Linked DNA regions of Homo sapiens. The protein of the gene in region 2 interacts with the protein of the main gene of each other region in a pairwise test. Each region holds a gene or a part of one and is shown on either strand. Other genes may lie near its edges.

What was found.
Region 1: the proteins of LSM14B (region 2) and TCEANC interact in binary tests that used the Homo sapiens proteins (3 or more experiments, as listed by UniProt).
Region 3: the proteins of LSM14B (region 2) and HOMER3 interact in binary tests that used the Homo sapiens proteins (3 or more experiments, as listed by UniProt).
Region 4: the proteins of LSM14B (region 2) and JPH3 interact in binary tests that used the Homo sapiens proteins (3 or more experiments, as listed by UniProt).

The regions. Positions count from the first base shown.
Region 1 is NC_000023.11:13,648,559-13,656,336, reverse strand, and holds the start of TCEANC (transcription elongation factor A N-terminal and central domain-containing protein), read right to left. Parts: upstream 3,197-7,778; 5' UTR 3,149-3,196; exon of another isoform or gene 2,898-3,148; intron 1,049-2,897; 5' UTR 964-1,048; intron 1-963.
Region 2 is NC_000020.11:62,117,423-62,125,707, forward strand, and holds the start of LSM14B (protein LSM14 homolog B), read left to right. Parts: upstream 1-5,052; 5' UTR 5,053-5,244; coding exon 5,245-5,371; intron 5,372-5,682; exon of another isoform or gene 5,683-5,801; intron 5,802-6,033; exon of another isoform or gene 6,034-6,262; intron 6,263-7,194; coding exon 7,195-7,358; intron 7,359-8,285. UniProt on the Homo sapiens protein: mRNA-binding protein essential for female fertility, oocyte meiotic maturation and the assembly of MARDO (mitochondria-associated ribonucleoprotein domain), a membraneless compartment that stores maternal mRNAs in oocytes.
Region 3 is NC_000019.10:18,930,795-18,938,575, forward strand, and holds part of HOMER3 (homer protein homolog 3), read right to left. Parts: intron 7,691-7,781; coding exon 7,559-7,690; intron 3,617-7,558; coding exon 3,509-3,616; intron 2,252-3,508; coding exon 2,130-2,251; intron 1,339-2,129; coding exon 1,182-1,338; intron 832-1,181; coding exon 715-831; intron 618-714; coding exon 531-617; intron 1-530. UniProt on the Homo sapiens protein: Postsynaptic density scaffolding protein. Binds and cross-links cytoplasmic regions of GRM1, GRM5, ITPR1, DNM3, RYR1, RYR2, SHANK1 and SHANK3.
Region 4 is NC_000016.10:87,604,727-87,612,507, reverse strand, and holds part of JPH3 (junctophilin-3), read right to left. Parts: intron 1-7,781. UniProt on the Homo sapiens protein: Junctophilins contribute to the formation of junctional membrane complexes (JMCs) which link the plasma membrane with the endoplasmic or sarcoplasmic reticulum in excitable cells.

The DNA.
Region 1 (7,778 bases), on a different chromosome or scaffold from region 2:
TTCATTCAATAAATATATATTAGGGATTGAGTATGTGCTAGATGCTGAGCCTAAAGAGACAGTCTCTGCCTTGAAGGAGCTGATAGCCTAGTGGGAGTAATACTGACAAGAAACTGGCCAGTTACAACACATGTGGAATTTCAACATGGACAGACACTGGCTGCTAGGGGAAACACACGCAGGATGGCACCAAACCCTATCTGGGCTCGCCATCATCTGGACAGCTACAATTTGCTTCTTTACTGCCTTCACTGTACTTCTGGCACTCACAAGGCCCAACTGTGAGTCTGGCACTTTGTTAGAGGGATCATCCTCTAGTACAGATCTCAGAAAGATACTCCCTCATTTTCCTGCTGAAAGCCCTTGAGAGGTTTCCCCTTGCTTTCATGATGGAGCCAAAGCTCCTTGGCCAGTGGCAAAAAGAGCCCTAGCAGGCCTCCCTCTTGACTACTCGCAACCACTGATGGGCACGGCTCTGTGCCTTTGCTCAAGCAGCATCCCGAGCCTGGCTGATCTCTCACCATTAGTGGTTCTCAAGCCTGGCTGCACATTAGAATCCTCTGGGGAAATTAAACAACAAAAAACAAAAACAAACAATGGCAGGGCCTCACTCCAGATAGGATGAATTAGGATCTCTGAGGGTAGGGCCTGCATATTGGCTCAGCTCTCCAGGGTGACTCTGATTTAAACCACACACAGGCATACAACCCTCTTCCACACCCCAGCAGGACCTGCCAGTTAGGCTGCCATCAGCCCCAAAGACAGCTCTGGTTCTGCTCCTGGACCGAATGCAGACAACTCTATGACTGGCTTTTCTAGATGAGTCCCATTCAGTCAGAAAAGATTTAAAACACCTACTGTGTACAATGCAGCTGACAACCTTCTCTACAAATTACAAATGACAACTGTAATATTTTAAGTGTCATAATGTACACAATTCCTGATATTCACCCTCTCACTTACCTCTTCACAGTGGAAGGCAACATATATTTATTGAGCAACTCTCCAGGCCACACACACTCCAGTCATCTCAATCCTCACAATACTCCTGCAATACAGATAATGGCTTATTTTCATCTTACAGGTGAGGAAACCTGCTAAAAACAGTAAATAATTTGCAAGTTTTTTTCATGGTGTTAATCACATTTAAAAAACGTTTTTACTGCCTTCCCCACAAGACCATAAGAGAAGATCCACATGTTTTATTCACCTATACACACCTAGCAAACACCCAGTCAGTGCTTACTATTACTTAACACATTTTTGTTGTTGTTAAATGAGTAATGAGCATCCAGGATGCTCTCTCTCTTCTCTGCTTGGGAGCTTCATTTCTTTTCACTACACACCAGCTTGCTTGTACTCATTGCACCTAAGCCCAGTGCCCCTTGGCTTCTTTCGTAGGAGACCAAGCCCATCTCGATTCTAGTTCAAAAAAATCATTCAAAAATTCTAGTTCAAATAAATCTTGTTAAAAAAAACAAAACAAACAAACAAACAAACAAAAAAACCATGGTGCCCACTGTGGGCTAATGAAGTGGGTTTGAGGGGTCAAAACATTTGCATAAGGAAGGTCAAGCAGGTCCAGTTCCCAGAAGTGAGGGGTGCTGAGCAAGTTGGATAAGTTTCTTGACCATTCTGTGCCTCAATTTCCTCATCTACAAAATGGGAGAAATCCAACATCCTAGGATTAATGAGAATTAAATGAAAGTCTTGATAAAGTGCTTTGAACTATGGCTGTCACACAGTAAGTGTGAATAATAGGATGTGAATCTACAATTAAAAGGCTTAAAAATATCTACCAAACCAGGCATTGTTCTACAGCAGGGGGTCAGCACACTTTTTCTGTTAAAGATCAGAAGGTATATATTCTAGGCTTTGTAGGCCATACAATCTCTATGGACTACTCAACTCTGCTGCTATTGTAGCAGCAACAGCAGATACAGAAAATAACATAAATGGATAGGCATGATCTTGCTCTGGTAACACTTGTTTACAAAAACAGGCAGGCTGGATTTGGCTGCAGGCCATAGTTTGTTGACCCTTTTCTAGAGCAGGGCTGTGCAACATATATATAACATGTAAACCACAAATATGATTTAAAATTTTCCAGTAGTCATGTTAAAAAATAAAAATTGGTGAAATTAATTATACATTTTATTTAACCCAGTGTATCCAGAATAGTCATTTCAACATGTGATTAATATAAACAAATTGAGATATTTTACATTCTTTTTCATGCTAATTCTCGAAAATTCACTGTGTCTTACACTTACAGCACATCTCAATTCGGACTAGCCACATTTCAAGTGATCAAGCCTTATGTAACTAATGGCTATCATTATTGGGACGCCACGGTTCTAGAACTGATGCTAATATGGATAATGCTTGCTTAGGTGCATACCTATACCAAAAAGTGTATACAGTGCCAGGAAAAGTAGGCACGAAATATGGTATTGGATCCATATAAAAACTTATAAAGATTAGCTAATATTATAGTAAGCAAGGTGCACACATCTGCACAAAAATGGCCTAAACCCTGAGAAGAACGAGAGGAAAGGTCTGGAAACAATGTTTCCAGAAGTTTGTAACAAGTCAAAAATAACCTAGATCTGTTCAGATCTTTAGATCTCTTTAAAGCCTAAAGAGAAACTGTAACTTTCTAGCCCTAACCCACTTAACAGCTCCCCAGCTTCACAGGGAGCCCCGCCCTCTATGGAGAGAAACGATGCCAAATGTTGGCAGCGGTGTAGCGGTTACTGAACAGCCACTCAGCACTGCACTAGGACCATTTCCCTTAATGGTGACCCCTAGTAAAGGTGCAGCGAGAGGAAGGGACCAGCCCAACTGCCCGGTCTAGCCCGGGTTCGAGTTCCGGTGGGTGGGGTCGAGCAACATGCAAAGCCTGCCGCTAATCATCTTGGGATGACGGCCCGGCACCCAGCACACAAACAGCGACAGTCCCGAGGGTTCAGCCCACTCTGGCGACCTCGACAGTCGGAGAGGAAGGGGCGGGGGTGCGAGCACCTTCGGATCTACGCCGCCCAGGGCGCACCGGAAAGCTGCCGCGAGCCGGGGTGGGCTTCCGCTGGGAATAAGGGCTCGCCTTTTTGCGGGACACAGGCCCTGGCAAACCTGAAGCATGACTCACCGAAAAGCGCAGGCGCAGTTCCGGAGCCTTCAGCCGCCCAGTGCCCACGGAGAACTTCCGATCACCGGGACTGGGACAACGTCAAGGCTCAGCCAATCCAAGCCCACAGGCCGGCGCACGTGGTCCTGGGACCCAGTGCATGCGCGCTAGGGAAATGGCTGCCGTGGGACTGCGCTCGCGCGGCTTCCTAGAGGAGGAGCCATGGCCCCGCCCCGGGCCCGAGAGAAAGAAACTGCACTTTCGTTTTTTAGCAGCAAAGTTTGTTGATGTACTTTACAACTTATCTTTTCTGCTTCTACTCAGGACAGTCAAGACAGTGCTCAGCTAGATGTTCACATAACTGTAGACATAAATGTGAATCTATTTAACGCAGTAATTAATTCAAAAAGTGTTTTTAGCATCCTAGCATGCATCAGTTGATATGAAAGTAGTAAATGTTAATTGAGTGGTCTTGTGCATCCTGGACTTCTCATCTGTGCATATTCTCATTCTTTGCCTGCAAAGGGCCAGTAAAAGCACAGTGATGGTTGAACGAATGTGACAGCCTCCTTTGCTGATGCCTTACCCCAAGGTAATTTGGGGAAAGGTTCAGGGAAACAGAGTATCCAATCCAATACTCTGGACTGGGTGCTGGCAGGAAGGAGGGCGATTGTATGATTAAGTATCATAATAAATCTTACCTAAAAGGAGGGGAGACAAGACCAGTGACTCATTAACTGGGATAGGGGATGTTTGGTCATTTTTGTGGTTTGGACAATGTTTACGTTTTTTCAGCATTCCCACGTGATTACGAAGGAGTCTTGTTTTTGTCTTGATCCATCTGGTCAAAGAGTGGCCACGTCTGATGGTGTTCTGTGAAGTATTTATGTTCCACGCAGCACCAAGGCCCAGCTGTGACTGCCGGGGCAGCTCAGAGCTGTCAGGGGTTACTTTTTTCTTGCTGTCTATTATAGGGCTAAAATGTTTAAGGATTATATAATACCTTTTTAAAGAAAAAATTATTTGGCTGGGCGTGGTGGCTCATGCCTGTAATCCCAGCACTTTGGGAGGTCGAGGCAGGCGGATCATGAGGTCAGGAGATCGAGACCATCCTGGCTAACACGGTGAAACCCCGTCTCTACTAAAAATACAAAAAATTAGCCAGGCGTGGTGGCACGTGCTTGTAATCCCAGCTACTTGGGAGGCTGAGGCAGGAGAATCGCTTGAACCCGGGAGGCGGAGGTTGCAGTGAGCTGAGATCGAGCCATTGCACTCCAGCCTAGCGACAGAGCAAGACTTGGTCTCAAAAAAAAAAAATTATTTAATGACACTTGTCACTTGTTAAAGCATGGTAAGGAAGACTTTATTCAGGACCATTGAGATAGACATAGGTACCACTGCAACAGGGTCTTGCAGTGGGGAAGAGAGATTGGGCTCAACTTCAATTGTAGCATGGAAAAGTGAGAATTTATAGCCAAGGAGCAAGGTAGGGGGGTCAGTGGATGGAAAATTATTAAGAGGAAACATCAGGGGTAAGGGGGATTCTGTCTAAACCAACCTGACAAGATTCTTGCTGAAGACGGGCCAGGGTGATCAGATGTCACCTGGAGGTTGGTGGAGGATGAGGAACCAAATCAGATATTAAGGGTGATCAGATATTGAGGGTGGTTGCTTTTGGCTAAACTGATTTATCAAGGCTTTTTGCTAAAACTGGATTTTACAAGGAAGTGCACAGATAGGCCTAGTCAGGAGACTGACTAAAGTTTGGTTGGAAAAGAATGCTTGATAATCTTTACTTTTGCCTGTTAAAATAAAAAAAAATTGACGTAATTTAAATTTGGCAGAGTTTATGTGAGCAAAGAATGATTCATGAATCGGACAGCACTCAGAATCAGAATAGGTTCAGAGAGCTTTGTGGGCCGTGAGTATTTATAGACAGAGAATGGAAGTAAAATACAGAAATAGGCTGATTGGTTGCAATCAATGATCAGATCATTTGGATATGATCTGAGAAGTTGGCAGCTTGTGATTGGCTGAAGCTTGTCTGCTTGTGTTTGGCTGAGACTTGGCTGTTTATTATACTCTTCCTTAGGTTAAGCTTTCAGTGTATTTATGTACTAAGTTAAATTGCAATTCATTGTGTAGAAAATCAAAGTACAGAGACAGCCTTGAGCCAATAGCCTCCTGCTTATTTAATTTAACATGCTTTAATGGTATTTCTCTTCTCATTGTTACTTTTTTGGTTCATTTTATGAGTACTCTTGCCCCACTTTGTAAACACTGATTTAAAAATCCGAAGGACTATTGGCTCCTAGACCAACCATCTCTAGTTTTAGACAGTTACCTAGGAAAAATACTTTCTTTGTGATCAGATTTGTAACATGCAATTCTTAAAATATCTGATATTTGTCAAAACAATGGCACTCAAACTATGAAAGGCTCAATCTGAAGGAGTCAGTTTGGAAACTAGAAGTTACTACAGAAGTGGTCATTAGAGCTTTGAGGCATATTATAATCAATTTCTCATGAACTCTATGCTGAAGAAAAAAACAGAAATTACTCAAAAGTCTAAAATCAAAAACAACCTAGTGTTTTCTCTGGTGTGAAGGATAAGACCATTATTTCAACTAAGAGGCAAGCTATAATTACTGCGTAGTCCTGCCTTGTCTACTACAGTAGCCACATGTGGCTATTCAGATAAAATTTAAACTTCAGTTCCTCAGTTGCACTAGCTAAATGTCAAGTTCTCAATAGCCACCTGTGGCTAGTGGGTACCATATTGGATAGCACAGATATAGAACATGCTCATTGCTGTAGAAATTTCTGGCTGAGTTCATCTGGAATGAATCTAGGGCTGCCAGTGGATTCTAAAGAGGTTGCTGAAAAGTTTGTTCTTTTGGGCAATTTAAAAATGGAATACCTATAAAAGTACTCACATCTATGATAATTTATCATGCATAGTTTTCAGGCCTTTGTTTTAAAATCATCTTTCAGCTGCTTCAATACTCTGGAATTCTCTTTGATAAATTTCCCTTAGTGCAGCGGAAACCTCTTTTCAATCCTTATTAAGTCTCTGAGTGGCAATATATTAATAGATATTCTGAGCTCATGCAGACAGCCCTTTCCTGCAAATTCCCACGGAAGAGAGACAAAATCTTATGGGCCTTCTCCAGAGGCTAATGTTACACATTGCTGAGGGAACAGTTACAGATGTTTTCCATGGAATGAGGTCATAGAAACTGCCTCTTTCTGGGTTCTGAGGTGCCGGCCGGTGTTCATTTCCTGATAAAACACCAGGACCAGACACTGGGCTTAACTGGGGATGTTCTTATAAGTCACAGTACATAAGGCATGGGATTAAAACGATGAAGAGTTCCCTTGAAATCTCAGGAGTTACAGAATATTAGGAAATAGAACAAAAAGTCATACATTATAGAAACAGAAACTTTATGTTTAAGTTCTGCAACATATTTCTCAGACTTATGCAGGTGAAATGACAGAGAAGCAGCGAACATGGTATCTCCAGTGAACATCCCCAGAGGCTTCCAGAAGAGCTAGTTCAACGGGTCAGGCAGTCCCTGGCTGGTGGGCCACAGATTGCTTAAACCAACCTAATACCTCTTTTGTTCTTTGGAGGGGCCCACTTTGGAGATTTTTTGGAGGACCCTCCCTTTGCTGGTAGCCCCTTATTACCCATTCCATGGTTCAGATGCTGCACCCTCTGGTTAACCGCTGGCTCCTGCTTTTGGTAGCACATCCCACACAAACTTTTTCTGTCGGGTTACCTCACCTGCAGGCCTGTTGGTCAGGGTCCTTCCAAGACAGCCTAGGCCCAGCTGCTTGCTTGATGTGCACTTAGCCCATGGGAACAACCCAGCGGCCCTGCTCCCCGCCCAGCCCTGGAAGCAGGGCTGTTCCCTCTGCAGCCCTTCTCGTCATCTTCACAGTTGGTCTTAGGTAGCTCTAGCTGGCTTCTCGCCTATTTATTGTTTTTTTTTTTTTTTTTTTTTTTTTTTTGGAGAGTCAGACACCATTCTACAACAGGGGCACCTGTCAATCTCTCTGAGTGGTTCTCTCAAAGTCACCCTCACTTGCCTTGGAGTGGGGGTGGGAAGGAAGCTTCCAGAACTGTAACAACCCTCTTTCACTGTTGCCTTCTCCTGTACATAAGCTGAAGAGTGGCAAACGGGCATGGGTGACAGGAGTTTTTGGCTCATCATTTAGTAAGCCCTGGGTAAATGGTCTAACATCTCTCATTAGAACCAGCAGACACTTAACATTGTGCTCTCACCTTTGGGGCCTTGGACAAAACTCTGAGTCAGGAAATATCCCATTTAACACCTTCTTGTACCTGTAGTAATCTCCAGATCAGTTCCATACCTCTTATTCTCCTTTTCTATACCATTTGTCCATTTTGCTAATTTCTCTAGAAGGTATGTTATTCTACCATAGATTTATGGCAACATTTAGTGGAGGAATGATGAAGGACCAGAAAGTCTGGCTTCAGTCACCTCTTGGTTGATATGGTTTGGCTGTGTCCCCACCCAAATCTCATCTTGAATTGTAGTTCCTATAATGCCTATGTGTTGTGGGAGGGACCTGGTGGGAGGTAATTGATTCATGGGAGCAGTTACCACCATGCCGTTCTTGT
Region 2 (8,285 bases):
CATCAGGCAGGCGTAAAGACAAGTGCCCAGCCTGGCTGGGATGAGCCCGTAGGCCTCTTCAGTAACCATGGCAACGCTCTAGGACGCACCCGGCATCCTTTGCATGGAGTCAAGAGAGGATACAATGTAATAGGAGAGACCCTTGAAGAAGAAGCTGCTTCCTTCCCTCATGCCCAGTGCCAACCTCAGGTCAGTCTCCATCTGGACATCTGCAGAGCATGAGCTCCAAGTGCAGAAATCGTGTCTGGGCTTTGTCCCTTCCCGCCGTTCACTATCCCCTCCCCCCGCCCCAACCTGAAGGCTGAGCACAGAGGACCACCAGGGAGGAGGCCCGGACGTTGAGCACCCAGGGTTAGCAGCCGGCAGACTGACACAGGAATCCCAGCCCTGTCATGTGCTGGCCGTGTGACGCTGGCTGTCACCTAGCCCAGGCTGAGAGCCTGGTTTCCTCCTCTCACAAGGTGCAGCACCACATCCGGAGGGCTGCGGAGGGGTTCGGGGAGGAAATGCGTGGCCGGCTTGGGCACCAGGTCTGGCACTGAGTGGTGGGACTGGGCTGGTGACACTCAGTAAGACAGTGGTGGATTGACTTAGAAGGGGCCTTTCATCGTTTACTTTCTATCCAAGTAGAACACAGGGCTGGGGAATGCTGCCCCCACCCCAGCCATTCCTGAGCCCCTAAAGCCCAGGAGCCCCTCACAGCCACCGGGAGAGAAAAGCTGCCAGCCTCCCGCTGACAGCCCGTCTTCTGTTCCACCAGGATCTCTCAGCATTTGATCCTGCATTCTGAGGTGGCAGCACCAGGGCTGGCCCTATCAGAATCTGACATTTCGAAAGCTGGTGTCTGGGTCTGCCCAGGTTCTCATCAGCTCCAGCCAGCTGTCCCTCCAGCTGCACCTGGAAGCGGGGCCGAGGCTGCCCGCTAGGTGCTGGAGTTTAACACACTCCTCTTTTATTTTCCAAGGAACTTCCCATCACACAGGGCTCCTCACGCCAGGAAACTCGGCTGTTGGGGTGGGAAGGGGAGAAAGGGAGGTGGAAGGGGGACAGGAGGCAGGAGGGGGAGATGGATGGGAAGAGGGAAGAGGGTCTGAGGATGCCTGAACTTCAACCCACTGGTGCTCATCCAGCCTCCCGGGAAAACAGCCCTGCAGAGCCCCATGCAGGAGGAAATGGATTTTAACTGGATTCACAGAGAGCAGGTCAGACCTCCATGAGAATTCCTGATGGTACAGGATCAACTCAGCCCTCCCTCCTCACCTTACTGTCCAGCCACCTGTGGGTCCCTGTGCCCCGAACACCCTCCCTGGGCCTCACTGTCCCATTCCCTGCCCGGAAGTCCTCCTAGCAAAGCTGGCCCTGAGCCTCCCCACACGGCACACCTGTGCCCTCCTCAGCTCCCTTCAGGCTGGTGCTGTTGCACCTGTGCGGTTGGAGGGTCTTCCTCGGGGGAGGGGGCCTGAGGCCTGCAGGGCCTCCCCAATCCCCTCTCCTGCGCCAGATCCTGAATGAGGGGACGGGGACGGTTGAGTCCTGTCTCACCAGCACGTGGCCACACTTCAGACCACTGACTTATCTGTGGACCACCCATCGTTAACGCCCTCTGAATTAACTCAGCTGTTTTGTGTGGCGCCTACTGAGCAATGACACCTGTGAGATCAATGGCTGTGCCAGTCATTCTTGCTCAGGGGAACATTAGAGTCACAGGATGGTTTTCTGTGGTGGGGCACCCTTACCTGCTGCAGGATGCTGGCCTGTGCCACCCCAGCTAGACTGGTGATGCAACGTGGAGCAGGGTCCTTACTCCATGTCTCCCCACCTGTCACTGGGGACCACGGCATGCTCCTACATACACAGAGCAAGCACGTAATGAGTGGCTTGTGGCTGCAGCAGAAACCTCTCCAGCTGTCCCTATGGCCCTCCCAGTGCCCTCAGCACACCCAGTTCCTACACGTTCCTCCAGAATAGCCCCTGGTTACTCTCAAAGCCCTTCACAGGCATGATCTTCCGGGGTCCTCAAGCACACCAGTGAGATGGACAGGCAAATGAAGAAACTGAGGCAGGCAGTCCAAGTGGCCCAGGGTTTCCCAGAAGCCCCAGCTCATTCCTCCAAATCCTTGGGCTCGCTGGTCTAAAGCCTGGTGATTACCAGGCAGGTGGGCTGTTCAGACCTGTGCACAGTAAAGAGCTGCTTATAGTGGAGGTGCTGGATACATGTGCCCCAGCCTGGAAAACAAGCCATGCCAGTGAACGTCCAGGTCGACTTAGGCCTGGCACAACTGTCGCCTTCTCAGACCTCACCCAAGTGCCCTCCACTTTGGGCAGGATACCAAGGAATGAATGGCAGGGCCTGCATTCCTGGACCTGGGCACTACGTATATTTTTAGCCTCTGCCTTCCTGGGCATTTGCAGGGTGGCTAATGTTCTCAGGGAGCCACCAGCTGCACACCCACGGGCTGGGCAGGCACTCGGAGGTCTCTGGGAACTGCACCCTCCCTGCCTTCAGTCCGGGGGCTCAGAGGCCAGCTCCTTTTCAAGGCAGAATCAGCTCCTGCTAGTGAAGCATGCACCCCACCCCCAACACAGCCAGAAGCCTGTGGCTCAGAAACTAGGAGGCATGAAGTACAGGATTTGTGACCTTGGATTTCCTTACTTGGAAAATGGGGTGGGGTGGGGGGACAGAAGGACTTTGACTCCACATGGGATCACCAGGCCAGCTCACTCAGGAGACCTGGTTGGCACCTCCTCCTGACAGGTGCACCCTGTATATCCAAGTGGGGAAGGATGTGCTGTGTTGAGAAGCTGAGAGTCTGGGTCGCGCTTCCCAGGGCCAGATGCCCCAGTCGCTGGAGACCTCTCCTCCCTGAGCTGGGCTGACTCCATGGCTTTGCTGTCTCTGTTCTCTTCCTGCATATGATGTTCCAGGAGCCAAGAAGCAATTCTAGAATGTACAGGTCAATCTTGGCAGATGAAACTGAATTTTCCCTCTTCTCTTCTGCTTCCTGTGTCCCCTTCCTTAAACTCATCACTGTTCTCTTACTGGCCATTGCCGGGCTCTGGTGGGAGCAGGTTGGCTTCACCTTTGTGAAGAGACAAGAGACAGTGTGATGCGGCCCCAAGCCTGTGGAGGATGCCACCAGGCCAGACTGCAACTTCTCTGCGTGACTCCCCCGTGCTGGGCCTCTGTTTCCCCTTCTGTCAAATGGGGAGTCACAGCGTCTACCCTGCAGGGCAGGTAAGATCTTCTTATTATAGTCAGAAACACATTCTAGGTCCTTACCAAGTCCACACTTACACAAACAGGTGAATTAAATATTTCACAAAATAATACTTACTTTCACCATGCGAGATACTATTATTTTCTTTTTTTCCTTTAGAAATAGGGTCTTGCTGCCACCCCTGCGTGCAGTAGTCCAATCACAGCTCATTGCAGCCTCCAACTCCTGGGCTCAAGTGATCCTCCCGCCTCTGCCTCCACCTCCCCAGGAGCTGGAACTACAAGTATGTGCCCCCACACTCGCCCAATTTTTTTTAAAGTTTTTTTTTTTTTTGTAGAGATGGGGTCTCCATATGTCGCCCAGGCTGATCTCAAACTCCTGGCCTCCAGTGATCTTCCCGCTTCGGCCTCCCAGAGTGCTGAGATTACAGGCATGAGCCACCCACCACGCCATCTGATATCTTCTAGCTTATTCTATTTCATTTTTATTATTATTTTTCTTGAGACGGGGTCTAGCTCTGTCGCCCAGGCTGGAATGCAGTGGTGAGATCTCTGCTGACTGCAATCTTCACGTCTCAGGCTCAAGCGATTCTCCTGCCTCAGACTCCCGAGTAGCTGGGGATTACACGTGTCTGTCACCACGCCCGGCTAGTTTTTTTGTATTTTTAGAGTAGAGACAGGGTTTCACCATTTTGCCCAGGCTGGTCTTGAACTCCTCACCTCAAGTGATCCGCCCGCCTCCGCCTCCCAAAGTGTTGGGATTACAGGCGTGAGCCACCGCGCCCAGCCTATTGCATTTTTATAGTCACCACCCACTACTTTTTTTTTCCAGGACCCAATATTGGTCCGTGATCTGATGATGTTCACGGTCAAGACGGAAGCAAAAAAAGCACACACCGCGCGCCCTCGGTCACTAATCACGCGGAGTATACGCGAGGAGGGCCCGCAGCTAAGCGACGGCGGGCGGCCGAGCTTCCTCCACGGCCGGGGAGGTGGGCAAGGCCTCCGGGCCGCAGCCCCGGGTACGAGCGGAGGCTCCGAGGCCCCCGGTAGCCAGTCAGAATTTATTTTAAGGGAAATGGAAAGCTGCGGCAGGCTTTGGGAGGAGGGGCAGGATTAAAAGAGAAAGTGTGCTCAGCATGTTATATTTAGAGGCTGCCACGCCGGAAGCGCCGCCTTCCCGGGAGCTGCCGCCGCGCCCGCCCCCCGCCGGCACCTGGGCACTGGGGCGGGAGTCCCGGGGCTGCCCGGGAACACCCGGCGCCCAGGGCCTCCGCCACTCCCCGGTCCCCCATGAGGGTGAGGGCTATAGGCGCATCTGGCCCAAGATAGGGGAGTCGTCCGGACCCCACTTCTGTAGGAGGGGAAACTGAGGCCAAGGGGGCAAAGCCCCCGTGTTCGCGGCGCCCAGGGTCCGGGGCGGCGCCGGCACGCGCGCGGGCGGGGCCTGGCGCTCCTCCCCGGTCCCGCCCACTGAGCGTGCAAACCGCAGCCGCCCGCCCACGCGCACGCGCGCTCCTCCCGGGCCGCTTCCCACCCCTCCCCCCGCCCGCTCAGTCTCGTGCTCCCAGCTCCGCGAGGGGCCCGCCGGGAGCCGGCCGAGGGTGGGGCGGATCGCCGGGGAGACCCGCCCCCGGCCAGCGGCGCCTTGCTGCGCAGGAACGACGCGAGGGCCCGCCCCCCAGCTGGCGGCCCGGCCATATTTAAAGGACGGCGGGCGCGGCGAGCCAATGGGCGGCGAGCGTGAAGGGGCGGTGCGTGGCGGTGCGTGGCGGCGCGAGGCCCCGGATGTGGCTGCGGCGGCCCCTCCTCCCCCGCGCTCCTCTCAGAGCCCCAGTCGCGCGCCCCTTCTTGGTTCGCTCGGTGCCCGCGCAGGCCCCTCGGGCGGTGGCGAGGAGGCGCCCAGGCGGAGGCGGCGGCGGGCGGAGGAGCGCAGGAGCGGGCGGCCAGGCCACCGCGCGGCGGCGGAGCGGGCCGCGGCCCGGCGCTCCTTCCCCACCGCGGCCCGACGCACCCCGGCCGCCGCCATGAGCGGCTCCTCAGGCACCCCGTATCTGGGCAGCAAGATCAGCCTCATCTCCAAGGCGCAGATCCGCTACGAGGGCATTCTCTACACCATCGACACCGACAACTCCACCGTGGCGCTCGCCAAAGGTAGCGGCCGCCGCCCGCCCGAGCCCGCTGACCCCCGTCCGCCAACAGCCCCGGCCTGCGGTGCCCTCCCCGCCCCGGGGCGCCCCGGAGCCTGGCGCCCAGACCCCGCCCAGAACCCACCCAGGGCACACCCGGCCCGAGATCCCCTGCCCGCGCCTTCACCCCGGACGCCCCCGAGGCGCCCCCTTCCCGCGCGCCACCCTCCCCCAGCGTAGCCGGCCGCACAATGGTCTCCCTGGGCTCCCAGGGCGGCGGGATTGTGCGCGGGCGCCCGGCGGTGTTTGGTGAGGGGCGGGCCCGGCCCCCGCGGTGCCGCCCCCTCGGCCGCCCAGCCCACCTCTGCAGGTGCCAGCTCCGAGGAGCAGGGCGGCTCCCGTCAGCGGGCCTCCTCCCCGCCAGCCTGGGGGGATCCCTGCGGGGGAGCCTCGAGGTCGGGTGGCGGGGCCAGTGTCCCGGCGTCTCCCGAAGGCTGGGGGTGGGGTCACAACACGCGAATCCTGCAAGCCTTTCTGGAACTTATTAGACAGCTGGGGCCTTGATCCTGAACAAATACCGCGTCCTAATGCGGCCTCCTGCCAAGGCAGAAGCATCCGTTGGCAGCCAGATGCCCCGGTTTAAACGGTTCTCCTGCTCTATCCTGACCTTCCCACTGTGGGGCTTACCTTTTGGTGACAGCCGCCTGTGGGTGCTCGTAACCGGCTGTGGCCGCTGGAGGACTTACAGGAGGGGGGCTCTTTAGAGTCAGAATCTCTGAGGTTGTTGAGGCAGCGGGTGGTCCAGAGTTTCTTTGTCTTCATCACCCAGAGAAGACGGGGAGTGCACTTCCCCTGCCTCTCAGAGAAAAGTGCCCGTGGAGCCACGTCTGCCTAAGCCCGTGTGTGTGCTGGATCTGGCGCTAGGCTCCCAGGGGTTCTTGAAGTGTCTAGACGCGTCTGAAACGCTGCTTAGGTCACAGGGAACTTCATGTGTAGAAGAACGCACTCATTCCAAACAGGGAGTGTCTCCTTTTGAAGCCCGTCTCCTGCGTGGCTTCAGGAGCTTGTTGAGTATGCCAGGGCTATGCACTCACTTGCAGCCATGGAACCTCACTACACTTATTACAGGAGAGCCCAGTTAGAGAAGCTGAGGCCCAGAGTAGGCCCAGGAGTTAGCAGGAGTTGTGTCTTACCAGTTAGAGGCTGCTGTCCCACCCACCTCTGCCCCTAGAGGCTTGCTAGAAAGAGACTTGGGCGCTCCTGGAAGCCTGCTGGTTAGGGGTTAGTAGACTCAATTCCTTATAGATGCGGAAGCCGGGGTCAGAGGTCCATAATCCTGGGACCCTGTCTCCCTTTGTTTTCTGTTACAGCTGTTCCAAGGTTTGTTATGGATAGAAGGGTAAGGGCAACACTCGTCTAGATTCCTTTGTGAGAAAACTGCCTCCTCAGGCGCAATGTGCGGTGAGGCTTTGGGCATAAAGCAGCCGGCTGGCTGTTGGATCTACAGAGTCAAACGTGAACAGGGAGGCCTTACGAAGCAAGCCTTGTTTTGCTGAGAGCTCTGTACGTTGGTGCCTTCGCACATCAGACTGTCAGTCTGTGAAATTGTTCCTTGTCATCTTTGTGATCTAGAGCTGTCTGTTGTCTGGAGCTTCACCAATTGGTGCATTATCAGCACTGTCCATTGAAAATCGGGGCATTAAGTAGTTGTTGAAATGTGGACCTGGGGTGCTGTGTTGTGGCTCTGAGCAAGTGTCGCCGTCTTTTGGAAGGCTTGGGAGCAGTGGTGTCAGGGTTGATTGAACTGGCTGAGGACAACAATAACGCTTCTCTTTCTCCACTCATAAGTGAGGTCCTTTGGCACTGAAGACCGTCCCACAGATAGGCCTGCGCCCCCCAGAGAGGAGATTTATGAGTACATCATTTTCCGAGGAAGTGACATCAAGGATATCACTGTGTGTGAACCTCCGAAAGCTCAGCACACACTCCCGCAGGATCCCGCCATTGTTCAGGTAAGTGTGCCACTGTCCCTCTGTGCATGCTGTAGGAGATGCTGGTTTCCATTTGGAGCTTGGTGGCATGTTTGGTCAGAACGCTCAATGTGAGGAATAACCTTTTTTTTTTTTTCTTTGAGGCAGCGTCTCGCTGTGTCACCAGGCTGGAGGTCAGTGGCGTGATCTCAGCTCATTGCAACTTTGGCTTCCCAGGTTCAAGCAATTCTCCTGCCTCAGCCTCCCGAGTAGCTGGGACTACAGGGACGCACCACCATGCCCAGCTAATTTTTGTAATTTTAGTAGAGACGGGGTTTCACCATGTTGGCCAGGATGGTCTCAATCTCTTGACCTTGTGATGCACCCGCCTTGGCCTCCCAAAGTGCTAGGATTACAGGCGTGAGCCACCACACCCAGCCTGAGGAATAACCTTTTAATGAAAAGTGGCTTAACTTTTGTCCAGGCTGTTGCTGCTCTCACAGAAGGTGTTGATTCTTGTAGCACACACAGTAGGTGGTGTGTGCTGTGTCACGTGGCTCTTAAGGAAGGCGACCTGGGGAGTTGGGTGTGCATGTGCGCGTGTGTAGTGTAGTGTGGTATGAGTGGATGCTCCTGGACCTGTGATGTTTCGGGCATAGCGTTTGCCCTTAGTTTCTGGTTGGAGAAGTCTGAGCCCTGAGCAGCTGCTGTGAGTGGCGTGACCTACCTGCAGGGACTGCAGGGCTTGCCCTCGGGTTACGCCCAGTCGTTACATGCTGCTGTTATACAACACCAGATTTGCAAGTCTGATGCCATGTGCCTGCTTATTGGGTTATGGCTTATTTTGCCCATGCTCCCCCAGGGAGCCCAGATTAATATTTTCTTCACTTCTAAATTTAAATATTCACTAGCTCCTCTGGGGTTCAGACTGCATTAGGTTCTGTGCTGAGCACCCATCCTGGAAGGTGG
Region 3 (7,781 bases), on a different chromosome or scaffold from region 2:
ATCAGGAGTTGAGACCAGCCTGGCCAACATGGTGAAACCCTGTCTCTACTAAAAATACAAAAAATTAGCTGGGTGTAGTGGCGGGCGCCTGTAATCCCAGCTACTCAGGAGGCTGAGGCAGGAGAATTGCTTCAACCCGGGAGGTGGAGGTTGCAGTGAGCTGAGATCGTGCCATTGCACTCCAGCCTGGGCAACAGAGCGAGACTCCATCTCAAAGAATTAAAAAAAAATAAAGCCAAGCCAAGCCAGACCTAGTTCCAATGCAGGCTCTGTGATCTCAGGCTGAGAACAGGAGGAATTGACGGGGTCTGGCATGGGAATACAGCAGGAACTCAAGCATTGCTTGTTGAACCCATAGATGGATATGAAACTGTACCAACAGCCACTGTTCACGCGGCACCTGCTGGGCATCAGGCCTTCCACAGGACTGGGCCTCCCAATACTTTATCATCTTAGGTAGATATTGTCCTGAGTGTCTGTTGAGGTGACTGTCACCCACCGTCACCCCACCTCCTTGTGCCCACACACACCTGCACCTTCTGCTGAGTCTCCTCACGCTCGGCAGCCTCCAGGGCCTCGCGGGGCCCCCCAGTCTGACTCTTCAGGGTCTGAATCTCCTAGAGGAGAAGAGTTCCCAGGGTCTGTTGCGGGGGTCCTGGCTTTCCCACAGGAGGTGAGGGAAGGCGAGGCCCAGGAACCACACTTGGCACTCACCTGGTCCTTGGTTTGCACCAGAGCTTCCAGCTGTTCCAGCGACTGGCCCTGGCCCAGCCCCTCCTTCTCACCGGTGGGGGTCACCTCTGAAGCTGCCTGAGCCTCCAGCTCAGCCACCTGTAGGGCAGGAATAGCAGCCCCTGACGCCCCCGCCTGCACTCTCCCTTGCTCGCCCAACCTCTAGGGAATCTGCCTCCTGTCTGGCCACGCCCAGGACCGAGCACCCATCTCCCTTGGTTGGTGCCACCACCCCCCTCTGCACAGCTTGGACTTTAGTGTCTGATCACCCTCTGAGGCTGGCATTGTCTCAAACCCATTTTACAGAGCAAGAAACTGAGGCTGGGTCAGTGACCTGCTGAGGTCACACAGCTAGTCCATGAACCCAGGGCAGATGGGAACTGCCGAGGCGCGGTCTCCACAGTTGCCCGGGCCAGGTGGGGGTCTCTCGGAGGGAGGGGTGCCCTCACCCGCTGCCGCAGCCGCTCGGCCTCTGCACGCTGAGCCTCCAGCTGCTGCCTCCACTGGGCTGCGGCGGCGTTGGCCTCTCGCAGGGCGCCTGCCAGCTTGTTGTTGCTGTCCTGCAGTGCGAAAAACTCGGCCTCCCACTGTACCTCGCCCACGGAGCTGCAGAGACACGAGGGTCGGCAGTGGGTGACACGGGGCTGGGGGGCGGAGTCGGGCGATGCTGGGCTAGGGGGCGGGGCCAGGGGTGGGATAGCTCTGGGCTTAGGTCAGGGCGAAGGCTGGCGAGGGTGCGGAGTCGTGCGCGAAGTTGGACTAGGGGGCGGGGCAGGGGTGGAGTGGCACTGGGCTGGGGGCGGAGTCAGCGGCAATGCTCGGTTAGGGGGCGGGGCCAGGGTGGGTGGCGCTGGGCTGAGGCGGAGTCACGGGCGATGCTGGGCTAGGGGGCGGGGCCAGAGGAGGGGTGGCTTTGGGCTAGGGCACGGAGTCAGGGCCACGCAGGGCTGGGGATGTGGCGACACTGATTGCTGAGCTTGGGGATGGGGCAGTCCCGCAGAAGCGGGGTCTTGTCGAGGACCGAGTCAAAGAAGGGGGCACGTGGAGTCCGCCCAGTGACACTGTGGGAATGTTGAGGGAGGGATGGGAGGTTGGGGAGAGTCAGCCGATGGGGGCGTGGTCAGGGTGGTTATCCTAAGACCAGAGAGGCATCGACGGGGCGAGGTTAGCAGCGAGAAGAGACAGGGATGGGGTCAAAACAGAGGGGCGTGGCCAACGCAGGGTAGGGGCGGGGTCGGCTCTGGATGGGGCAGCATTCAGATCCTCATCCCCTTCCCCAGGTCTTGAGTCCACAGTTAGATCCCGCCGTCCTGGCACTCCCTTGGCTTCCAAGAACCGCCTCCTCGTCCCCCACCCCTACCCCCGCCCCTGCCACGCCCCCAAGTCCCGCCCCTCACCCCTCAGACAACATCTTCTTTAGCCGCTCGCGCTCTGTGGGGCCGGGGGCATCAGCGCTCTGGCTGCGGAACAGTTTTTCCTCGCCGGGGCCGTTGGCACTGACGAGAGGGCTCGGGGGCACCTAGGCACGGGGAAAAGAATAGGTCACGACCCCACATCAGCTGGGATCAAGGCTGATGTGACTGGGGTCGTCACATCGGGGGTGCAATTGACCTATGCACCCTAAGCAGGTCCTTCACAGCACAGGATCCAAGTGTGTCCCTCCCCACCTCACCCACCCTCCATGGCTCCCTGTGGCCCCTAAGCTGGGAGTTCCATGCCCACGCCCTCGACCTTGCCTTCCTGGGCTTTCACCACCCCCAGGAGCAAGTCTGATGCAGGTTAGTCTAAACCAAGATACTTAGAACCTGTAAGGTAGGGGAGGGGTACAATCGGACACCTCCCTGCTGTTCCCTTCCCTGAGGCCGAACTTCAACATCACGTTTAGGATTTCAGCAGGAAGCCCTGCCCAGGCCGAATTCGTGTTTCGTGAGCAACCCCACTGCCTGGACCACTGGCTCTGAGGGTAGACAAGCTGGCGGGTGCCCTGCGAGAGGCCAGCGCCACCGCAGCCCAGTGCAGGCAGCAGCTGGAGGCTCATGCTTTTTTTCATCTCTCCAACCCCTGTGCACAGCCCTCGGCCTGGTACACAGCAGGTGCTCAATAAATAATGCTGAATAAATTAATGTGGGAAAACACGCAGGGACAGTTCGTTGTTCTGCCTCACACTTAGCCATTTCTTTCTTTCTTTTTTTTTTTGAGACAGAGTCACACTCTGTCACCCAGGCTGGAGTGCAGTGGCACGATCTCGGCTCACTGCAACCTCCATCTCCTGGGTTCAAGCGATTCTCCTGCCTCAGCCTCCCGAGTAGCTGGGACTACAGGCGCATGCCACCACGCCTGGCTAATTTTTGTATTTTTTAGCAGAGGTGGAGTATCACCATGTTGGCCAGGCTGGTCTCGAACTCTTGGCCTCAAGTCATCCTCCCTCCTCAGCCTCCCAAATTGCTGGGATTACAGGCGTGAGCCACCGCACCCGGCCACACTTAGCCATTTCAATTTCTAGTCTTCCATCCTGCCATCTGAGCTGGTTTTGCTACTGGGACCTACTGGGTGTACCCCACCGGCCCCAGGCAAGGTCCAGACCCTCTATGACACACTCCACACCACTCCTCTGTGGTCCCTGCTGTGGGTCTAACCTTAGGTCATCTGGAAGCATTGGGTCTTGACGACCAGCAGAGTGCCCCGGTCTCCCAATATCAAGGTCCCCCAATATCAGTTGAGCGCCTGGCTGACTCACAGGTGCCCAGGCAGGCATAGGGGAGTAGGGAGTGCTGACCTGGTGGGAGGCGAGCCCCAGGGCTGGACTGGTGAGCTCCCCGCCATCCTGAGATTTCTCCCTGGCCAGCCTGGCTGCTTCCTTCACTTCCTGGAACTTCTCGGCAAACTAAGGGAGTGGGGAGGAAAAGACAGTAAAACCCCAGCCCATCCTCCCAAACAGGTCACCATCACTCAGTGACAGCCCCGCCACTTTCGAACCGTACCCATCCCCTTATCACACACCTTGGAAGAAGGAGAGAAACTTTGAAAAATGATGTACCATGGTGGGTGGGCAGGTGGCATCAGATCACAGAGGTGGCATTTAAATACATTGGGCCACATTGAGAAAGGGAAAGGAATTCCCATGTCCTCTTTTTAGGAAAGGGTCTCACTTTGTCACCCAGGCTGCAGTACAGTGGCATGATCTCGGCTCACTGCAGCCTTGACCTCCCTGGCTCAAGTGACCCTTCCACCTTACCCCTCCACCAAGGAGCTGGGACTACAGGTGTGTGCCATCATGCCCGGCTAATTTTTTCTAGAGACGGGGTCTAGCCATGTTCCCCAGAATGGCCCTTTTCCTGTTTTTTGTTTTTTTTTTTTTTGAGATGGAGTCTTGCTCTGTTGCCCAGGCTGGAGTGCAGTGACATGATCTTGGCTCACGGCAGCCTCTGCTTCAGCCTCATGAGTAGCTGGGATTACAGGCATGCACCAGCATGCCTGGCTAATTTTCATATTTTTAGTAGAGATGTGGTTTTACCATGTTGGCCAGGCTGATCTTAAATTCCCGGCTTGAAGTGATCCGCCTGCCTCAGCCTCCCAAAGTGGTGGGATTACAGGCACAGCACCCAGCCTTTTTTTTTTTTTTTTTTGGGGGGGGACAGAATCTCGCTTTGTCACCCTGGCTGGAGTGCAGTGGCACCATCTCAGCTCACTGCAACCTCTGCCTCCCAGGTTCAAGCGAGTCTTCTGCCTCAACCTCCCGAGTAGCTAGGACTACAGGCCCGTGCCACCACGCCCAGCTAATTTTTGTATTTAGTACAGATGGGGTTTCACCATATTGGCCATGCTGGTCTCGAACTCCTGACCCCGTGATCCACCCACCTCGGCCTCCCAAAGTGTGAGAATGACAGGTATGAGCCAACATGTGGGGTCCCTTTTAATCTTTATCAGGGCTATTTCAACAAAGAGAGCCTCAGGTGGGTGCTAATCTGTCTTTAACACCTGTTATTATTCCTTTATAACAAAGAGATTAGGTCTCAGGCTCTGAGAGACATCAGAAGTCAATGAGAAAGTAATCATCTCATTCTTGTTTTTGTTGTATTAAATGTTTACATGTTTACATTTACCACCTATTTATGACAAAGCAATACCAGTTTTCCAGTTAGGATAGGATATGTTTCCCCCCACCACCCCGGTTTTAAAATAAATTTCCTTAGTTTAAAAATAATTTTTTAGGCCGGGTGCGGTGGCTCACACCTGTAATCCCAGCACTTTGGGAGACCAAGGCGGGCGGATCATTTGAGGTCAGGAGTTCGAAACCAGCCTGGCCAACATGGTGAAACCCCATCTCTACTAAAAACACAAAAATTAGCCAGGCATGGTGGTGGGCGCCTGTAATCCTAGTACTTGGGAGGCTGAGGCAGGAGAATTGCTTGAGCCCAGGAGGTGGAGGTTGCAGTGAGCTGAGATTGTGCCATTGCACTCCAGCCTGGGTGACAGAGCAAAACTCTGTCTCAAAATAAATAGATAAGGCCATGTGTGGTGGCTCACGCTTGTAATCCCAGCACTTTGGGAGGCCGAGGCAGGTGGATCATGAGGTCAGGAGTTCAAGAGCAGGCTGACCAACATGGTGAAACCCCATGTCTACTAAAAATACAAAATCAGCCAGGCATGGTGGCACATGACTGTAATCCCAGCTACTTGGGAGGCTGAGGAAGGAGAATTGCTTGAACCGGGGAGGCGGAAGTTGCGGTGAGCCGAGATCGCACCATTGCACTCCAGCCTGGGGGACAAGAGTGAAACTCTGTCTCAAAAAAATAAATAAATAAATAAATAAATAAATGATTTTTTAGGCTGGGTGCAGTGGCTCACACCTGTAATCCCATCACTTTGGGAGCCTGAGGCAGGCGGATTACCTGAAGTCAGGAGTTTGAGACCAGCCTGGCCAACATAGTGAAACCCTGTCTCTGCTAAGAATACAAAAATTAAAAAAACAAAAATTTTGTAAAAATACAAAAATTAGCCAGGTGTGGTGTGTCTGTAATCCCAACTACTTGGGAAGCTGAGGCAGGAGAATTGCTTGAACCTGGAGAGAAGAGGTTGCAGTGAGCCGAGATCGGGCCACTGCACTCCAGCCTGGCAACAGAGCTAGACTCTGTCTCCAAAAAAAAAAAAAAGACCTAAATTAGAAAGGTAAATTGTTGGGGCCGGGCGCGGTGGCTCACACCTGTAATCCCAGCACTTTGGGAGGCCAAGGTGGGTGGATCACGAGGTCAGGAGATCGAGACCATCCTGGCTAACACGGTGAAACCCCCGTCTCTATTAAAAATACAAAAAAAATTAGCAGGGCGTGGTGGCAGGCGCCTGTAGTCCCAGCTACTAGGGAGGCTGAGGCAGAAGAATCAGAAGAATGGTGTGAACCTGGGAGGCAGAGCTTGCAGTGAGCCAAGATCGCGCCACTGCACTCCAGCCTGTGCGACAGAGCGAGACTCCGTCTCAAAAAAAAAAAAAAAAGTAAATTGTCTGGGTGCAGTGGCTCAAGCCTGTAATCCCAGCACTTTAGGAGGCCAAAGTGAGAGGCTCGCTTGAGGCCAGGAGTCAAGAACAGCCTGGACAACATAGTGAGATCCTATCTCTAAAAAAAATAAGATTAAAGATATTAGCTAGGCATGGTGGCATACGCCTATAGTCTCAGCTAGTCAGGAGGCTGAGGTGGGAGGATCCCTTGTGCCCAGGAGTTTGAGGCTGCAGTGAGCCATGATTGCACTGCTTCACTCCAGCCTGGACAGCAGAGCAAGATCTTGTTAAAAAAAAAAAAAAAAAGAAGGGAGGGAGGGAGGGAAAAAAAAAGAAGAAAGGTAAATTCTAAACCTTCTAGAAGAAAACAAAGAAAGCCTGGTGTGGTAGCTCATGCCTGTAATCCCAGCACTTTGGGAGGCCGAGGCAGGTGGATCATCTGAGGTCAGGAGTTCAAGACCACCCTGGCCAACAAAATCCCATCTCCACTAAAAATACAAAAATTAGCTGGGCGAGGTGGTGGGCACCTGTAATCCCAGCTACTCCAGAGGCTGAGGCAGGAGAATCGCTTGAACCCGGGAGGTGGAGGTTGCAGTGAGCCGAGATCGTGCCACTGCACTCCAGCCTGGGGGACAGAGCAAGGCATTATCTCCAAAAAAAAAAAAAAAAAAAGAAGAAGATCTTCGTGAAAGCACTCATCATCAACAAAACCACGGATAAAGATAATAATGGAAGTATAGAGACGGCACAGGGTGCAGGGAGGTGAGGATGAAGGTATTGCTGGGGCATGTGGGAAAGTGCCCAGCCCAGCCCAGCCACCCATTTGATGTCCCAAAGAGGAGCAGGGTGTGTCCAAAATTAGAGCTACAGGCAGTAGAACTAGGACTCAAGAGCAGGTACAGTGGCTCATGCCTGTAATTGCAGCACTTTGGGAGGCCGAGGCAGGCAGATCATTTCAGGTCAGGAGTTCGAGACCAGCCTGGCCAACATGGTGAAACCCTGTCTCTAATAAAATACAAAAAATTAGCTGGGCGTGGTGGCGGACTCCTGTAGTCCCAGCTACTCAGGAGGCTGAGGCAGGAGAATCGCTTGAACCCGGGAGGCGGAGGTTGCGTGAGCCAAGATCACTGCAGCCTATCTCAAAAAAAAAACAGAAAAATGAACTAGGAATCAAACCGGGGAAGCTTAAAGGGGCTTCAGTCTCAACTCATCCTACAATCCCATCCTGCAGATGGGAAGATAGGGGACCTGCCCAAGATCCCAGAGTGAGCCCAGGAGAAGACTTGGGCCCAGTCTCATCGGTTCCCTCCACTCTCCCCCTCACCCGGCCCACCTGTGTCAGATGCTGTTCAGAGGCAAAGCCCAGGCCGTAGACTGTGTTGGCGCGACTGTCGGCCCACTGCCCGAACTTCTGGGAAGTTTTGGTGAAGGTCATGTTGGGAGTGACAGTGCTGTTGATGATGGCCTAGGGTCGGGGAACAAAGTTCAAGGTAGATGGGACAGATACTAACAAACATGAAACCCCCCAGGTATTACCTTGTATTAGGGTCTTGAAG
Region 4 (7,781 bases), on a different chromosome or scaffold from region 2:
GGTCCTCAACCTGCGCTGAACGTTAGAATCACCTGGAATGTTTAAAAAATAATCTCAGGCCAGGTGCAGTTGCTCACACCTGTAATCCTGTAAAAAAGTTGCTCACACCTGTAAAAGCACTTCAGGAGGCCAAGGTGGGCGGATCGCTTGAGCTCAGGAGTTTGAGACCAGTCTGGGAAACACGACAAAACCCCATCTCTACAACAAATAACAAAACTTAGCTGGGCATGGGGGTGCATGCCTGCAGTCCCAGCTACTCAGGAGGCTGAGGTGGGAAGATGGCTTGAGGCCAGGAGGCAGAGGTTGCAGTGAGCCACGATCACACACTATTGCACGCCAGGACGACAGACGGAGCCAGCCCCCGTCTGAAAAAAATTAAAATAAAAAGAATCCCAATGCCCAGGCTGTACCCAGAGGACCTCAATCAGCACCTGTGGGTGGGGCCCGGGCATCTGCATTTTCTAAAGCAACCTAGATGAAGCTCATGCACAGCTAGGGTTAAAGTGAGTGCACCAAAGCAGGATCTCCTGCACTGCAGCCACCTGAGCATCTCCAAACACACATCCTGACCCTGGAGGTCAGGCAGGCCTGACACGCTGCATTTCTAACCGTCTCCCAGGGACATTCTTAGTGACTCGAATGTGTAGCCAGGCTTAGGAGGCACAAGCCCAGGACTGTGGTTCTTAATGTGAGGTCCCCAGATCAGCAGCCTCAGCATCGCCTGAAATTTGTAAGAAATATAAATTCTTGGGTGGCATCCCAGGCCCAGAGACTCAGGGGTGGGGCTGGAAATCTGTGTCTTGACACACCTTCCAGGTGGTTCTTGTAACACTCAGGCTTGGGAAGCACTGGCATAGAGCAGCAGACAGAGGCGGGCCCATGTCCTGCCCAACTCAGACTCCACCAGCAGCAGAGAGAGCGACTCTCGGTGTTTTTGGAAAGCATTTGCACCAGCGAGCCTTCCCTGGGTCCAGAACAATACCCGTGACATTCATAGGTAGGAGGGAGATGGCACATGTTGAGAAGGAAAAAAATGTCATGACTAAATCATAGAGATGGGGAAGCTGAGGCTGAGGGAGACATGGCCTCGAACAAATCTGCAGCCTCAGGCTTGGGATAACAACTCTCACCCTACTGCCCTTCCAGACTCAACTCAGGCACTGCCTACCCCCAGAAGCCTCTGCCGCTCCTTCAGGGACACACACACCTGCCCTGCCCCTCCTCAGGTCCCTGCCCTGTGGTGCTCCCATTCAGGACCCCCACTGTGGCATGAGAAACCCTGAATTATTCCATATATCTCGGTTTTGCATCCCTGTTCAGACTCCTTATTCTTCCTGGTAGAACATAGGACATCCTATTTCTTGCATTTTCATTTTTATGTGTTTGTTTCTTTTTTTCCAATCTTCCACGTTACCACAAACTCTGTACTGCGTACATACTCAATGCTCAGCAAATACTTAAGGCTGATTCACTGAGGTTGGACCTGAGCTTTTCTGTCTTTGTGCCTTGAACACGGTCTGAACTTGGCAAATGCTTCTCCAATGACTGAACGAATCAAGCCAAGGAAAAGGGAGCAGTAAAAAGATAGTGAGGAATTAAGCAGACTGGAGGGTACTCATCTTTCCATGGGCCTTTCTTTGCACTTTGCAATGAATGCTACTCATTAAATCGTGGTCCAAAAATGCCTCCCAGTCATGACTGCTGGTATCGCTCCATTATTCACTGCATTCAACACCATCATCTTTCTCATATGAAACACTGGCAGTCTCTTAAGGAGCAATGACAAAGCCAACCACAAAACAAAACTGATCAAGGAATTAGAACAGGCATGTTTTAATGCTAATTGTAAAGGGAGACTGACCTGTGGACATGAGGGTCTCACGGAAAAACTTTCCTTTAACTACGTCCAATTCTAAGGTCTTGCAATGAAACAGGCATACGAAATAATGACGGTAAACAAAATTACCAAATACTACCGCATTTACTTGCACAGGTCATTCATTCCACAAATATTTATTGACCACCACGTGCCAGCACCATTTTAGTCACTGGGCACATGGCAGTGACCAGCATGGACACAAACCGCTTCCCATATGGAACTTACACTCCAGACCAGTGCTGCCTGCCCAATAAAGCTTTCTGCACTGATGGAATGTTCTGGATTTACATTGTCCAATATGGTGGCGACTAGTCCCAGGTGGCTGTTGAGCCCGTGAAATGTGGCTGGTACTGGTTCGTTGCCTGTTAGGAACCCAGCCACACAGCAGGAGGTGAGTGGCGAGTGAGTAAGCAAGCAAGTGAAGCTTCGTCTGTATTTACAGCCGCTCTCCAACGCTTGCATTACTGCCTGAGCTCTGCCTCCTGTGAGATCAGCAGCAGCATTAGATTCTCATAGGAATGCAGAGCCTACTGGAAACTGCTCATGCCAGGGACCTAGTTTGCACACTCCTTATGATAATCTAATGTCCGATGATCTGTCACTATCTCCCATCACCCCCAGATGAGACCGTCTAGTTGTAGGAAAACAAACTCAGGGCTCCCACTGATTCTACATGATGGTGAGTTGTATTATTACTTCACTATATATTACAATGTAATAATAATAGAAATAAAGCACACAATAAATAGAATGCGCCTGAATCATCCCAAAACCATCCCTCAACCCTGGGCGGTAGAAAAATTGTCTTCCATGAAACAGGTCCCTGGTGCCAAAAAGGTTGGGGACCATTGGTCTAGAGGACTCACCCATTGAGGCAGATGTAAAGAGAATGGTGGTGAAACAGTTTCACTGACTGGTACAGACAAATCATTCCTCTGCCTGCCTTCGGCTGTGCACCTATGACCCCTGTTATGCTCCAAGAGAAGTGAACACACATATCCTATGGCAGGAATACACCTTAGACTTCAGAGCAACTTCTATACATCTTACTAAAGTCTCACCCTAGGCCGGGCACAGTGGCTCACACCTGTAATCCCAACACTTTGGGAGGCCGAGGCACGCAGATCGCCTGAGTTCAGTTCAAGACCAGCCTGGCCAACATGGCAAAACACTGTCTCTACTAAAACCCAAAACATTAGCCAGGTGTGGTGGTGTATGCCTGTAATCCCAGCTACTCGGGAGGCTGAGGCATGAGAATGACTTGAGCCCAGGAGGCAGAGGTTGCAATGAGCCAAGATCACTCCACTGCACTCCACCTTGGGCTACAGGGTGAGACTCCATCTCAAAACAGATAAATAAATAAATAAAAACAAAAAAATAAAGTCTCACCCCCAAACCCACCTCCACAAGCTGGGAGCTGCTCTCCCAGTTGACCAGCAGAGGATGTTACCTCAGAAGACACTCACTTCTTCAGGAAGGACTGACAGGGTAGGGGTGAAAACATAGGCAGGCATGCCAAGTGGCAGCCCTTCCTGGAGCATGGAATCCATGCACCGACTGAGTAGGACCAGGCACACTTCTTCTTTTTCTTTTGAGATGGGGTCTGGCTCTGTCAGCAGGCTGGAGTGCAGTGGCACCATCTTGGCTCACTGCAGCCTTGACCTCCGGGGCTCAAGCGATCCTCTCACCTCAGCCTCCTGAGTGGTGGGACCACAGGCGTGCAGCACCACACCTGGCTAATTTTTGTATTTTTTGTAGAGACGGGGGTCTCACAATGTTGCCCAGGCTGGTCTCAAACTCCTGGGCTCAAGTGAACCTCCCATCTCGGCCTCCCAAAGTGTTGGGATCGCAGGCGTGGCCCCCACATCTGGCACAGGCATAGGCACACTTCTGGTGGTTGAGTGTGCTGGAGGGTCCGGGACCAGGCGGTCACTGGCAAGGAGAGATGGTTTGGCTTGAAGAGGATGCCTAGAGCGAAAGTGAGTCCAGCCGTCCACCCAACCCAGGCAGGCAGCCGGGAGCGCTCTCCAAGGTGCTGAAGGGACTGCCTCTCTTCTCTCCTCCTCTCCTCTCCAGACTTGGAAGACAGCACCTTACTCAAGTTCGAGCCAGGACCCCAGTGCAGCGGTGGCTCCATCCACCGCATGGCCTCTCACAGCCATGAAGCTACCAGCGGGGGAAGCGGCCAGTCCACGGAGACACGGACCAATGTGGAAAATTCACACCAACATCACCCTCTCCTCTAGTACTCACAAGTCTTTTTGTCATCTAAGGACACAAAGGGCGTTACATTCAACATTATTAGCTCACAGTTGAGAGCTCGTCATATTTAGAGTTGTGGAGGCTTGGGGAAAACAGGAAGAAAAAGTCTTGGAAAGGAACAGCAGAGGCTCCTGCCCCCACCCCCACACTCCACCCCTTCTTGCTCTCTCCGGCTGGGTGTCCTCAGAAGAGAAGGGGTCAGAGTTCTCTCTCTCCTTCTCTGTGTCAGCTGGGGCTGCTCACTCACTACTCCAGATCGCTGCTGTAGGCGGGTGCCGGTCCTCACTCCCCGGCCAGCTCATCTCAGGATTCCTCACACAAAGCCCATCAAACGGCCTCACGGCCAACGTGGGTAGGGGTGCCCTTCAGCCACATTTGTTTCTCAGCTATAACTGGCAACAAAAAAATAGCTGTTTGCTTCTTCCTTTCTCTTTTCACCTTACGGAGCCTTTCACCACCCGCCCCCCGAAGTAGCGGAAAGAGAATCTCGGAGAAAACGCTTTCGTCTCCAACTGCTCAGGGCTTGCTTCTTGTTTCTGAAATGAGTTTCTGTTGGCATAATCTCCGCACCAATGAACCTGATTCCTTCTAACCTGGGCACTCATTTGAAAAAGAAATTACTTGTTGCATAGTCATAGTCATAGCCAAGCACAAAGCATACGCCCCATGGTAGTTTATTTTGTTGAGATGAGGGATTTTTCTCCCTAAAAGGGCACTAACAGCATAAACGTGTGTTTAAAATGGAAACGAAGCACACCACTGCCTCTGTCATCTGAGCTCCCCGTTTACAGGCCTGGTGGAGATTCAGAGTCCTTGGCCAGTGGAGAGCAAGCAAGGCCGCAAGGGCGCAGTGGCTGCGTTCTGGGGGACGGGGTGGAAAATGTCTCCGGGTGGCAGGTGTTTTGTGCGCGTGTGTGTGCGCAGGCGCCTGGGGGGATCTGAATTCCGACTGTGGGTGTGTGTGATTTGTGTGGGTTGAGGAATCTGGGCCGGTGAACGGGACCTGAGTATGAGGGGGAGAGGCTTGGGCGTGAGATGACTCATATCTTTCAGGGTGTAGGAGGGCTTATTGGAGGGGGTAACTTTCGATTCGAGGGGTTCTGTGTACACAGCACCCGAAGGAAAGATCTATACCTGTGCGGTGCAGCACCGGCATGCATGGTGGGCCTCAGGGGGCCAGGGGTCCTGGGCAGTGTATGGGTTTGCCCGTCTGTGCATGGGCATTCACCTGCAATTCTGGGCCACTGTACGCACAAGAGAACGAGAGATATAAACGAGAGGAAAGAACAGGAGGTGTTTTTGCACAGGGGCATTTAGAGAGCGACGTACCTAGCAAAGGCCCAGGCTCTGGGATGGCTGTCCTGAGTGTGACGCCTGCTGGTTCCTCCCAACCCACACCCACTGGGAGCCTCCACTTCCCAGTGTGGAAAATGAGAATAACAAGAAAATCACCCTCTAGAGGTGTAAGAATTAAGGGCTGTAATTCATTTAACACTTGCCACATGCTTGGCAGACAGTAAGTATCTAATGTTGCTATTTAACATCATTTACATGATCACCAGTCTCCTGTCCAGATGTTGGTTCTAATAATGATCATTGTAAGTGACATGCATTGCCTGGAAACTGTAATGAAAAAACTAACGGTAAATAATAATGTATGCTTACTATATTCCTGGCATAGCCACGCACACCATTCTCAATTAATCCTCACCCACCTTACAGGTATTGTTATCAACCTTTTGTAAAGATGAAGAAACAAGCTCAGAGAGGTTAAGTAATCCAACCAGGGTCACAAAACAGGGCATGTAGGGCAGGGATTCAAGCCCAGGATGCAAGCTGGGGTTGTGACTGGAAGCAAGTGTGCCTGTACCCCACACCCCCAGGCCTCACCATGCAGACGGTAGGAGCTACTCAGCTCAATCAGGGAGTACCCTAAGGGGAGGACACACCTGGAGGAGGAGGAGTTGGCACAGGTGTCCCCAGCTGAAATTCCACACCAATTCCAGCTACATGTGGAATACGCTGGCCGCTGGTGCATCATTCATGAAAATCGCCATTTCCCCAAGTCAGCGCCCAGAGCTGGGCTGAGGTTCCAGAGCTTCGCTGATGGCTGCCCAATATTCCCCCACTTCTTGTGCAAAGGAAAAGTCAGAGTGGAGCTGGGGCCATTAACTCCTTCCTCACTGCGACATGGCTGTCACCACCCACCAGTTGACTGGGAAGGAGGCATGGAGGTCTCTGCCCCATTCTGGCGATCCCCACACCCTGCAGGCTCCTTCCATGGGCTGCCTGGGGACACTCAGTGCCATAATCACCCCCTTCCCAACAGGAAGCTGGGAGCCCTCCAGAAAAGTGGCCCAGATGTCCAGGCCCGAGTCCTCAAGACCAGAAGGGTCAATTCTATTTCCTGTCATGCCATGTTGCCAACCAAAAGGGAGAGCCGGCCATGAAGCTCCCCATCTGCATCCCTGCCTGGCTTTGCTTATGGGAGAGCTAAGAACCGCATACCCCTTGAGAGGATGTTGACAATCTGGGCTTCTTCCGGCAATGTGATGCAAGAACGAGGGGGGTTTGGTCCCAGACAGATCGGGGATCCCTGCAGCCAAAGGCTGGGACTCCTGAATCACAAAGCCCGGGCCTTACTGGCCTCATCTGTAGAATGGACATGATCAGGCAGGACCACAAGGAGGGGAAGGGCTTAGGGGAGCAGGATGCTGAGGGAGCTGTCTGGCTGGAGTGGAGAGCCCAGGGAAGTGGACCTATAGAGAAAAACATCTCTCCCCTTAACCCGTCAGATCCTAAACTACACGGCCAGCCACAGAATCAGATCCTTTCTTCCCTAAAAAGTCACAACATAATCGCCGCTCCTTCTCCCTCAAATGTAAGCTCCGTGAGGGCAAAGATCTGTGTCTGCTTTGCTCAGTGTGGTTTTTCCAAAGCCTAGGACACCTGGCTGTCTGCTTTGCTCAGTGTGGTTTTCCCAGAGCCTGGCACACCTGGCTCATAGCAAACATTCCATCAGTATTTGTTGAATGAAAGAAATGATTCCTCAGGACTCTGGAGATGTCTGAGGAGCGTGGGCAGAGTGGGGTGCTCAGCCTCACCCCCAGATATTCTGAGGAGTTTCAGAGACAACGAAAGCCCTGGCTCCTCTCGTCCCCATGCCCTGCGTGAGCCCGGCCTGCACAGTCCTCCTGGAGCAGGCTCAGCCAGGAGCACCTCTGGAGGACAGGTCTGCAGAGCCTCCTGGCCAGAGCCTGGGGGTGATAGCAGCCCCTGGGCTCCAAACAGCCCAGCTGGAAGCGCCAGGCTGCCTGCCTGTCTCAGCCACCCACATCTGCTGCCCGGGCCTCCCTGTGCCTGCACGCGCGCGCACACACACACACAGGCCCACAGCCTGGAACCAAGGGAGCACCGTCTGCTCCCGCCCGGCCCTCAGCGCCCCAGGGTCAGGGAAGCTCTCCAACCTGCTCCATGAAAACAACAACGGCACAGAAAAGGCCGCCTGAGACCGGGGCTGGGCACGGCTTTGACAGGCAGGAGCATTATATAATTAACTGCCCCAGACTCCTCCTCCTCTTCGGGTAATAACGAACCCTGCTTTTCAGTTGCATAAGCCAAAATAATAATTACTCTCCAG